Homo sapiens: one gene and its partners. The protein of the gene in region 3 interacts with the protein of the main gene of each other region in a pairwise test. Each region holds a gene or a part of one and is shown on either strand. Other genes may lie near its edges.

The links.
Region 1: the proteins of CNTNAP4 (region 3) and FBXO21 interact in a two-hybrid assay, tested with the Homo sapiens proteins (one study listed by BioGRID and IntAct).
Region 2: the proteins of CNTNAP4 (region 3) and MAST3 interact in a two-hybrid assay, tested with the Homo sapiens proteins (one study listed by BioGRID and IntAct).

What each region holds. Positions count from the first base shown.
Region 1 is NC_000012.12:117,188,478-117,192,225, reverse strand, and holds the start of FBXO21 (F-box only protein 21), read left to right. Parts: upstream 1-1,755; 5' UTR 1,756-1,769; coding exon 1,770-2,008; intron 2,009-2,863; coding exon 2,864-2,999; intron 3,000-3,748. UniProt on the Homo sapiens protein: Substrate-recognition component of the SCF (SKP1-CUL1-F-box protein)-type E3 ubiquitin ligase complex.
Region 2 is NC_000019.10:18,121,680-18,125,427, forward strand, and holds part of MAST3 (microtubule-associated serine/threonine-protein kinase 3), read left to right. Parts: intron 1-5; coding exon 6-94; intron 95-170; coding exon of another isoform or gene 171-173; coding exon 174-243; intron 244-427; coding exon of another isoform or gene 428-448; intron 449-993; coding exon 994-1,072; intron 1,073-1,537; coding exon 1,538-1,695; intron 1,696-1,900; coding exon 1,901-1,976; intron 1,977-2,259; coding exon 2,260-2,469; intron 2,470-2,585; coding exon 2,586-2,687; intron 2,688-2,962; coding exon 2,963-3,095; intron 3,096-3,748.
Region 3 is NC_000016.10:76,275,286-76,279,033, forward strand, and holds the start of CNTNAP4 (contactin-associated protein-like 4 isoform 1 precursor), read left to right. Parts: upstream 1-2,115; 5' UTR 2,116-2,377; coding exon 2,378-2,462; intron 2,463-3,748. UniProt on the Homo sapiens protein: Presynaptic protein involved in both dopaminergic synaptic transmission and GABAergic system, thereby participating in the structural maturation of inhibitory interneuron synapses.

The DNA of each region.
Region 1 (3,748 bases), on a different chromosome or scaffold from region 3:
GGAGAGCATTTGGAAAGGTTAAGCTGAGCCCTGGAGGAAGAGGAGGAGCTACTGGAAGGGGAGGACTGCATGAAGTGCCTTGCAGGCAGCAGGAATAGTATATGTAGGGCCAGAAATGGGAGGAAAGAGATGACCAGCCTTGCTGGGGTATGCATGGCTAGTGAGAGAGAAAGACTTCAGATAGGTAAGAAGAGGTGGAGTTTGTTGCTTTGCAACAATGTTTGGGATGTCACATTCATTTCTACGGGAAATAGGGAGCCACAGATGGCTCAACGCCATCCATTGAGAGTCACTTTACTAGTTCAGCTCTCTCAGGGCATCTTGATTTCCAAGTTGCCAGGAGTACTTCATTGGACCCTCCATGTACTGACAACAGATCCTTCTAACTGTAATTGCACTTTGAGGTTTTGAAGCAAAGACTCCATTTTTCTCACCCCTGTATCCCCAGGGCACACAACACAGGGCTTTGGCACTGAACTAAACTGATTTTTTTTTTTTAATGTGCAGATCCTGAGACTACCCTCCCAATCCTGAGTGATAACTCCCGCTTTGAAGACTCAAATCCAGGCTTTAGCACTTTTGTCTCTGTAACTTTGAACCAGTGACTGCCACCTGGAAGAACTTTGCCTTTTCTGTAGAATAGGTATAACTGTGGTACCTATTGTGGGAGGTCAGACTATGCTCCCCAAATATGAAGGATTGTTGAGCTGGAAACAATTAAGAAACCAGTACAGGAGAGCTCTCTGCCTGCCCTCTATTAGCCTAAAATCAGGGCACACATTTGAGGATTATTATTACTCCCCTACACCATCATAGAGGGCTTCCCATAGCACCCACTCAAGAATATTGTTATTATTACATCATATGGTTAAGATTACTGACAAGCAAAAGTCAAGTGGATCTGAAATAGAATCCAAGACAAGGGGCTGGGCGCGGTGGCTCACGCCTGTAATCCCAGCACTTTGGGAGGCCGAGGTGGGTGGATCATTTGAGGTCAGGAGTTCGAGACCAGCCTGACCAACATGGTGAAACCCTGTCTCTACTAAAAATACAAAAATTAGCTGGCTGTGGTGGCGGGCGCCTGTAATCCCAGCTACTCGGGAGGCTGACGCAGGATAATTGCTTGAACCAGGGAGGTGGAAGTTGCAGTGAGCCGAGATCACGGCCACTGCACTCCAACCTGGGTGGTGGCGCGCGCCTGTAATCCCATCCGCACGGGAGGCTGAGGCAGGAGAATCGCTTGAACCCAGGAGGCAGAGGTTGCAGTGAGCCGAGATAGCGCCACTGCCCTCCAGCCTGGGTGAGAGCAAGACTCCTTCCCAAAGGGGGAAAAAAAATCCAAGACAAGGGATCCTGAGCAAGCCCTCTCACTCTCCGAACCTGTTTCCCCATCTGTAATATGGGGAGAAAGTTCGCAGGGTAATTCGGAAAGGTCCAATGCGCACAGAAAGCGCTCAGCACGCGTGAGAATAGATACCATTTTTATTTGTTAATTTTAAACATTAATTACGTTTAAAAGAATCAGTGCTACTATTGTTGTCCCGGACTAGAGGCGGCTTGCGCTGCCGGCTCCAAGCACAGAGCCCAATTATGTCCTCCCTTTTGCGGCGCTGCCACCCGCGCAGCCCCCAGCCGATGCAGGGGAGGTGTGGCCCGCGGATGGGCGGAGCGATCTCAGGACTCGCCCCCAAGACCAGTAGGCGGGGCCAGGCGGGGCGCCCGGGCACTCTCGCACGCGCGCGCGCGGCGGCCCCAGGTACGCGGACAAGATGGCGGCGGCAGCAGTCGACAGCGCGATGGAGGTGGTGCCGGCGCTGGCGGAGGAGGCCGCGCCGGAGGTAGCGGGCCTCAGCTGCCTCGTCAACCTGCCGGGTGAGGTGCTGGAGTACATCCTGTGCTGCGGCTCGCTGACGGCCGCCGACATCGGCCGTGTCTCCAGCACCTGCCGGCGGCTGCGCGAGCTGTGCCAGAGCAGCGGGAAGGTGTGGAAGGAGCAGTTCCGGGTGAGGTGAGCCAGCGGCCCCGCGCCCCGGCTGCGCGCCCACCGCCCCGCGCCCCCCGGGGCCGGGCAGCCGCCCCGCTAGCTCCCCGCGGCCGCCCCGCGCGCGGACCCCACCCCGGACCCCTTCCCGCGGACAGACAGACAAAGGCCTCCAGGCCCCGGACCCTGCGGGGCCACGCCAGGCGGACCCCCGGGTCCCCAAATGGCGCATCTAGGAGCGCCTCGCAGCCGGGTCCTCCGTCAAGGGTGACGCTGGCGGCGGCGCGGCTCGTCCCTTTTGCGCGCTTCTTTTGTGCCCGACTTCGGGCTGAAATGTTTACATGGACCCAGTGATGCATCGATCGGGCGGGCGCAGCATCCCCGGGCTGGTTGTGGACGGCACAGATTTCAGCGTGGCCCCAGGATGAAATCTGGCCCTGCACACTCCCTCTGTGACCTTGGGGGGAGCGACTTCCCTTTTTTTGAGCCTCGTTCATAGACTTTGAGTGGTGGTGATCATTAGACCTACCTTTCACCGTGTTTATTAAATTAGATGATGTCCGGGAGGCACGCACGCAGGGCCCCGGCTCCTAGGAGGCGCTCAATCAGTGCTCACTGTCATTGTCATTATTATTATTGTTGTTGTTGTTACAACTGTCCCCATTTTAGAGATGGGGAATGGAGACATCATTCATGCCGCTACGCCAAGGTCACACCGGGAGTGAGTGAGTGAATGCTGGTGGGGTTTTGAACTAGGTCTCTCGCCGGGGTCCCTCTTACCACTGGACGCCACTGCTGTCCCTGTTTCCAAGGCTGCCTTGGATTCGTGGCCGCCTGCCTTTGAGTTTCTGTTAAGCTGAGGGGGTGTTTCTCTCCTCGTAGGTGGCCTTCCCTTATGAAACACTACAGCCCCACCGACTACGTCAATTGGTTGGAAGAGTATAAAGTTCGGCAAAAAGCTGGGTTAGAAGCGCGGAAGATTGTAGCCTCGTTCTCAAAGAGGTTCTTTTCAGAGCACGTAAGGATCTGTTGATGTGGCTCTAAGCTTTGGCTTGCTGGTGTATGTGTCTGGGTCTGCAGGCATGAGCTCATCCAGCTCTTTTCGTATCTCCCTTTTCAATGCTCTCACAATCCCTTACTCACTTAGATGGCTGCAAGAGTCATTGTGTCCTTTTCCTCCTATCCAACAACACGAAGCCATTTGTCTGTGCCAGCTTTACTTTTCTAAAGCCAGAGAGAGAGTGGGGGTGGAGGGAGCAGGGAGGGACCCACGCAGCACAATGTAGACGGAGTCCAGATCAGCATTATTTCTCAAATGGGTTCAACGGATTTTTTTTGCAACCCCTCCGTTATTTGGGGAATCATCAATGATTGAACACTGTAAATTTCTCCCGGTTGTTTTCCCAGAAGGGTTGACGAAATTAATGTGGTTCTTCTCTCTGGCTTTGCAGGTTCTACCCAGTAGTGAACTGCATTATTTGTTAAGGTAACAGAGGATTAAAAGCTACCTATAAATCAGAGTTATTACTCCCTGAAATGAATTGTCTTGCATTCATTATCCCTGAAAAGTTTTTGGGTTTTTTTTTTTTTTTAAGTATTGCAGAAATACATGGTGGGTTTTTTTTGTTTTGTTTTGTTTTGTTTTCTTTTTTTCTTTCCTCAAAATGTCTCATGGAAGTTTCTTTCTTTTTTCTTTTTTTGAGACAGAGTCTTGCTTTGTCTCCCCGGCTGGAGTGCAGTGGCGCAATCTCAGCTCACTGCAACCTC
Region 2 (3,748 bases), on a different chromosome or scaffold from region 3:
CACAGCTGCCGCAGCGGGAACCGCAAGAGCTTGGTGGTAGGAACGCCCTCCCCGACCCTCTCCCGGCCCCTGTCGCCATTGTCGGTCCCAACGGGTGAGTGTGGGAGCAGCCAGCGGGTGCTGTGTCCTGCCTCTGCCCCGCTGACTCAGTTTCCCCGCCTCCTCCTCAGCAGGCAGCAGCCCCTTGGATAGTCCTCGGAATTTCTCGGCTGCCTCTGCCCTAAATTTCCCCTTTGCCCGGAGGTGAGTGATTGCCGGCTTTGGGAGACAGTGCGGGCACCACGGGCAAGGGTTGGGCAGGGGCACGTGCTCGGTGGCTAGACCTGGCTCCTCATTCATTTCATTCACCTTTTCCCCTCCCCTGGCCCGTCTGGTGGTGGTCTCCCCCTCTGGCTCCCATTCCCGGCAAATGCATGCCATCTTGCAGCCACATCCCACGCATGGACAGGTAATTTCAACCAGCCCAGGGGGTGGGGGGTCATGGGGGGATATAGCCCTAAGAATCATTAACTCACTAAAGAAATCATTCATTCATTCACTTAACAAGAGCTGATTGAGCACCTGTCATGTGCCAGACGCTTGCATTTCATTTATTTATTCATACAACAACATTCATTAAGCACCCACTGTGTGTATGCTCTGTGCTGCGGGCTGAGGGCATGGTCGCAAATGGGCAGCTGGCCCTGAGCCCCTGGGGAGTCCTCCGTTTGGTGGGGGGTGGTCAATGTGTGCCCCAGAAGCTACAGCTCAGAGGTTGAAGCTTTGACAGGGGACACAGTGGCAGCTGGACTCACGGGGGGGCTTCCTGGAAGAGGTACCTAAAGAGAGAGAGCATGCAGTGGACTTGGTCAGCCTGTGTCTCTGTTCTTGGTTATTTTCAGGAGATCCTTCCTACAACAGGGCCAGAATATGCTGGCCACAGTGTCTGTTCTTAGTCCCCACAAACCACAGGGGCCAGGCCTTCCTTCCATCTGTTCTTGTTCCCCTCTCCAGGGCAGACGGCAGAAGATGGTCCCTCGCGTCTCTCCCATCTTCCGGCTATGGAACCAACACACCCAGCTCCACCCTCTCGGTACCCATAGCCCCACCTTGGCAGGTGGACAGGCAGATGCCGGGTTGTGGGGGGACACATCTTTGTGTGTTTTTTTCAAGGTGTTGGATAGTTGTGCAGTCAGCAAACATACTAGTTACTTCCTCCATGCACGCCCCATTCTGGGAAATGCAGGGTCCCCTGAGAAGACCCAGCCTTGGCCCCAAAATAGTCCCTGGTTGGGGAGATACAGATATCCTCAGCCTATGGGGTCAGGGCCTGACCAGAGGGGGACTTGGGGCTGCCCAGGGGTACAGGCAGAGAGGACTTCCTGGAGGAGAGGGCATCAGAGCTAGGGTTTTGAGGGATGCATAGGAGCTAGGCAGGAGAAAGGATGTTACCTTCTGATGGCCAGCAGGCAGCCTGGGCCTTGAGGGGTGGTGCTGGGTTCCTGGCCACAGCACTGACGGTGAACTCATGGCTCTGATCCCCACCACTCTCTACCAGTCAAGCTCATCCTCCCGGGAACGTCTCCACCAGCTTCCCTTCCAGCCGACGCCGGACGAGCTGCACTTCCTGTCCAAGCACTTCCGCAGCTCAGAGAATGTGCTTGATGAGGAAGGCGGCCGGTCACCCCGCCTCCGACCCCGCTCTCGCAGTCTCAGGTGGGCCGCGACCTCTGGCCCCAGCCCCGGCCCCTCCCTGGGCTGGTGTGGAGGCCCAAGTTGTGGCTCCTCCTTCACCCCAGCCCTGACCCTGCCTGAGCCTAGCCTCTGATTCTTGTCCCTCAACCCTGGCTCAGATCCCCCAACATCCTCCCCTGGGGTTGGTCTCAGGTCCCATATCACAAGCCAGCTGTCTTCCTTTCAGCCCGGGCCGTGCAACGGGGACCTTCGACAATGAGATTGTCATGATGAATCACGTGTACCGGGAGAGGTTCCCCAAGGTGGGCAGCGCCTGGCGGCTGGACCAGCCCCTGCACTTCTTTCCACATTGCTGTCCCTCCATGGAACTCTGTCTTCCTGGCTATGTCCCCTTTGCCAGTCTGTTCATTTCTGTCTTTCCTTCCCCTTCCGTTGAAAGATGTCGTTCCTCCTGCACCAGCCCTCCCACCCGATCGCCCCATTGCCCCATCTCCTCTCTCCCCAACCATGCCTCTCCTGCCCCATTCTGCGTGTGTCACTCCAGCCCCGCCCTCTGACCAGGTCGCCCCGTCTCGCCCCACCCAGGCCACAGCACAGATGGAGGGCCGTCTGCAGGAGTTCCTGACGGCCTACGCGCCCGGCGCCCGGCTGGCGCTGGCTGATGGCGTCTTGGGCTTCATCCACCACCAGATCGTCGAGCTGGCCCGAGACTGCTTGGCCAAGTCTGGCGAGAACCTCGTCACCTCCCGCTACTTCCTAGAGATGCAGGAGAAGCTGGAGCGGCTTCTGCAGGATGTGCGTGGTTTTTCGCATGTTGAGGTTTTGCATGCAGTGGGACGTGGAGTGAGGGGGGTCCCCAGGCCAGACGGTGCTGAGGACCTGTGGGTGATGCCACGACCCACCTCCCCCAGGCCCATGAGCGTTCGGACAGTGAGGAGGTCAGCTTCATCGTCCAGCTTGTCCGGAAACTGCTGATCATCATCTCACGGCCAGCTCGGCTGCTGGAGTGTCTGGTAAGTTTCTCTTTCTACGGCCAGCTTGGGGTCCAGGCAGAACTGAGATTGGGACCACAACAGTCCTGCCAAGATACAGGTGACAGTTCCCATCGTGTAGGGCTTTGAGAGGAACACAGGGTGCTATTGGGCTAGCGTGGGCTTCCCTAAGGAGGCAGCGGGAGTGGAGACCCAGTGGGTGAGCTGGGAAGGGTGCTCCAGGCAGAGGGAACAGCATGTGCAGAGGCCTGCAGGTGGAACCAAGCCCTGGGTGACCAGCCCTCCTGTGCCCCTAGGAGTTTGACCCTGAGGAATTTTACCACCTGCTGGAGGCGGCTGAGGGCCATGCGCGGGAGGGCCAAGGCATTAAGACTGACCTTCCACAGTACATCATTGGGCAGCTGGGCCTGGCCAAGGACCCCCTGGAGGGTAAGCCGGGATGGGAAGAGGAAACCAAGGCTGGGAAAGGCCGGATGGAGGCCAGGCACGGTGGCTCACACCTTTAATACCAGCACTTTGGGAAGCTAAGGCGGGCAGATCACTTGAGGCCAGGAGTTCGAGACCAGCCTGGCCAACATGGTGGAAACCCCCCCCCTACTAAAAATACAAAAATTAGCTAAGTGTGGTGGCGCATGCCTGTAATCCCAGCTACTCAGGAGGCTGAGGCACAAGAATTGCTTGAACTCAGGAGATGGAGGTTGCAGTGAGCTGAGATCGCGCCACTGCACTCCAACCTGGGCGACAGAGCGAGACCCTGTCTCAAAAAAACAAAAAAAGAAAGGGCAGATGAAGCCAGGATTCAAACCCAGGCCCATCCGATTCCAGAACCACCGCACTGTTCTTTGTCTCTCTGTGGCCTTGCTCTTAGGTCACCTGTGGGAATTATGCTGAGACCCTCTGATCTTTTGGGGCCCAGGGGCCTCAGTGTCCTCAAATGCCACGTTAAGATGGTCAGGAAGCCTGGGGACCAGTGTTAGCAGTGGCCTTCCCTTTGTCCTGCAAATTCACAAATGACTTTACCAATTTCTGTGGCCTTTACTGTGGCCCAGAAAGTGAACTTGGAGTCAAACAGGACAACCCGT
Region 3 (3,748 bases):
TGTGTACTTATCCATTTAAGATGCATTCTCTAATTTGTTTTAAGAGAACAATTAAATACAATATTGTAACAACGAGACAACTTTTTTCTTCTGGAGAGCCCACAACCGTCCCACAGACATGATATTTTCTTCAAAGGACTGATATAATTATTCAATTAGATAACAAATGGCATATAGTATGTGTTCAGTAAAATTTAATCTCCTTCAATAATTAGTTAACATAAACTGTTAATTTATATCTGCTTTTACTTAGCATATGATTGAAAAAATAAAATCAGGAATGCAAGTCTAGGAACACAGAATAAACACTCAACCCATGACCTTTCTTTATTTTATTGTATTTATCCTTTTTTTTTTTTTTTTTTTTTTTGAGACAGAGTCTCGCTCTATTGGCCAGGCTGGAGTGCAGTGGTGTAATCTTGGTTCACTGCAACCTCTGCCTCCCGGGTTCAAGCGAATTCCTGCCTCAGCCTCCCAAGTAGTTGGGATTACAGTTGCCTGCGACCACACCCTGCTATTTTTTTTATTTTTAGTAGAGATGGGATCTCACCATGTTGGCCAGGCTGGTCTCGAACTCCTGACCTCAAGTGATTTGCCCACCTTGGCCTCCCAAAGTGTTTGCTGTGTTTTCCTAGGGCCTAAGGTTTTTGCTGCCACTGACAAGGGTCAGGAAGGAGGTATACTCTGATTTAGGGGCAATAAGTCCTAGGGTGAGAGCAGTAAAACTGGAGTCAGAAAAGCCAAATCCAGTCCTCAGCATTTATTACTAACTCTATGACCTCTTCGAATCATTTAAATTCTCTGTTCTTGTTTTCTCTTGTAAAACAGGAAAAGAAAAAAGATGCATTCTGCTTTGTTTGCAGGCATGAGCTAAACAAGCATGTTTAGTTCTTACGGGTATTTCTGTCATTTTCTCACTCTTTGACAAACCTATCTGATCTTTGACAAACCCACTCTCATTATTCCATAAGAAAGTGGTGTTAAAGGCTTATGTTTCTTCCAATTTGTGATTACCAAGAGGCACTTAAGAACTCCAGGATTTCCATTTGTATAAAATCTAGCACATTATCAGTAAAACATCTTGACATTTATTTTAAATAGATTATTTATCTGCTATGAACCATGTGACATGCTTCTTGTTATGTGATAGTAACTCCATTATTTAGACATTTTAAAATTCCATTCAAGAAACAGTTGTATCCATGGACCAGCCATTCAAAGAGTAATTTTTCTTTAATCATTGATCTTCCAAATTCAACTTTACTCCTCTCTCCTTTAAGTCACCTGAATTACATCGTCACATTGTTCAGTGTTTGTGTGAATGTGTATGCATGTGTGTATGTGGTGGTGGTGGAGGTCCCTTTCTTCAGTATTCCCTCATTTCCTACTTTGGGCCTTTTTGGAAATGTTATTAAAAATTTTGATTATAGAATGGTACTTCATATTCACAGCATGATGCATTCATCAACATAAATCTAGCCAAAGCATTTCATTTGTGGATTTATACACCTGAAGCATTAAAATAAGAAATGTTAATTTCTTGCAGACTACTACCAGATGATTTTAAATATCTGCTAAGCAGGAATGTCTGTTCCCATGTGGGGAATTTCCATAATAAAATCCTGGCACCCTCGCTGAAGAGTACAGTTTTATAGAAACAGAGAAAAACAACAGCAAGTATTTTCCCTGAGGACGGTTTTAGCTACAATTTCCCAATGCTGCTTAGTTATTTCTGTCTTATTTTATGCTTTTGTTTTGAAACATAATGCAATTTTACCTGGATGCACTCCCGGATAATCAGGAATGGCTCAGTGTGTTTTCTGGCTCTTGCAAATGCAAGACCTCCAGAAAATCAGAAGGCTCCACCGCCTTGTCCCTTCCCCCACTCACACCTCCAGCTGGGAGAAAAGGGTTAAGGATTATTGGAAAATAGAAGAGAAGGGAGGGAGCCCCAAGGAGGCCCACGAACGGGAGGCCGCGCCTCTGGGTGCAGCGGAGCTCGAGCGCTGTTGTGTGTTTGGAAGGAAGGATGCTGCTGCCAATTTGTGGGACCGCTGCTGCGAGGAGTGGGCGTGGCCTCGGCGGTGTGGATGCTTGTTAGGAAAGATGCTGAGTGCTTTTCAGTGAGGAGTCAGGGAGGTGTGTGTGAGAGAGAGAGAGAAAAGAGAGAGACAGAGACGGGGAGAGAGAGAGGGAGAGAGAAGAGAGGGAGGAGGGAAGAAGAAAAGACGGAGGGAGGTGAGGAGGAAGGGAGGGGGAGAGACAGAGACCTAGAGGGGCTGAAGACCCAGACAGAGCTGGCAGAGCTACTGAGAAGAGGACTGGAGCGCTCTGAGAGCCTCTCAAGATCTTTTGGGGGAGCCCAATAAATGTGAACATGGGATCTGTCACGGGAGCTGTCCTCAAGACGCTACTTCTGTTATCTACTCAAAATTGGAACAGAGTCGAAGCTGGGAATTCCTGTAAGTATACAGCAAATGATTTAAAACTTGCTGGGGGGCTCTCTGCAAAACTTTGATTCTGTTGGTTTGATGATGATTATTTGCAGCTGGGATTGCTGCAAAGCGTATTGCTGTAAACCAAGCATCACTTAAAAATCTTGCCAATGTGACCGGTTAACACTTGTCTCTCCTCTTGGTCTGGTCAAAATAGGCAAAGTGTCATTTCTCTTTTTGTCTACTCGCAGAATCTTACCCTCTGGTCTTTGAGTATTCATTGAGAATGCCCAAGTTCTAGTAAAACATGAAATTAGCATCTTATCGGGGGAATAGCCTGTGAATATCTTCATTTCTTCTTTTTTAAAGAACTACTGAATTTTATTGGAATTATGTCTAAGAGGAAAACAACTGGCAGACTTTACATTATGCTGCATTGGCTTAGATTTCTGAAGTTTGCAATTGGGCAGACCAGTAGCTGCCTGCATCTTTAAAATAATGCAGGCTAATAACTGAAATGTACTGCAGGCTTCAGGAGCACCAGCACTGGCTGAGGCGAGTCTCAGTATTAAGAGCTGTGCCCTCGCTGCTAAGAGAATGAGACTTAGCGCTCTCCGGAAAGAGGAGCCTCTTCCTACATTTCGCTTAAAGGAAAACCAGTCAGGTGGTCTTTCAAAAGTAGGATTCCTTTGTGGTTGAATGCTTAACTGCATAAATTTGTAATTGAATGTTCTGATGAAATAGAACCTATTTAGGGAAGATTGAAATCTTATTTATAATTTAGATATCATCCATAATAATTTGGCAGACTCCCTTCATCCACTCTTTATTAGAGATAGAAAAAGTTTTAAAAGTTATCTTTGGCTTAAATTCTCTAAATGGGAGAATTTTCCCCTCCTGATTAATGACAAACAAGCTTGGCAAATACAACTTTTTATTTTTTCTTGGATTTTAAAGGAAAAGCTCATTTGCTTTCCAAGAACTGGCTATGAGGCCTGTCCAGGAATTTATGTTGCTGCTGTATCATCAGGCTTAGATTTGGGGAACAGAGGCAGTAATCAGACATTTGCTATGGCATATCACTTGACTATGTTAAGAGTTCTGATATGTGAAAAACATGACAAACTCATGGGCACAAGTCAAATGTCCCCTCACAGTACCTGGCTCCCGTGATTTCGTGTTTCAGTTCAGAATGGGCTCATTTAATGTCACAGGGTATCCATCACTCTGAAAGAAGGAACCTCACTTCAGGTGCTGCACATCAGATTCAACTTTAGTTTGAGTGTTGTGATAATCTCATAAGTCAATAAAAT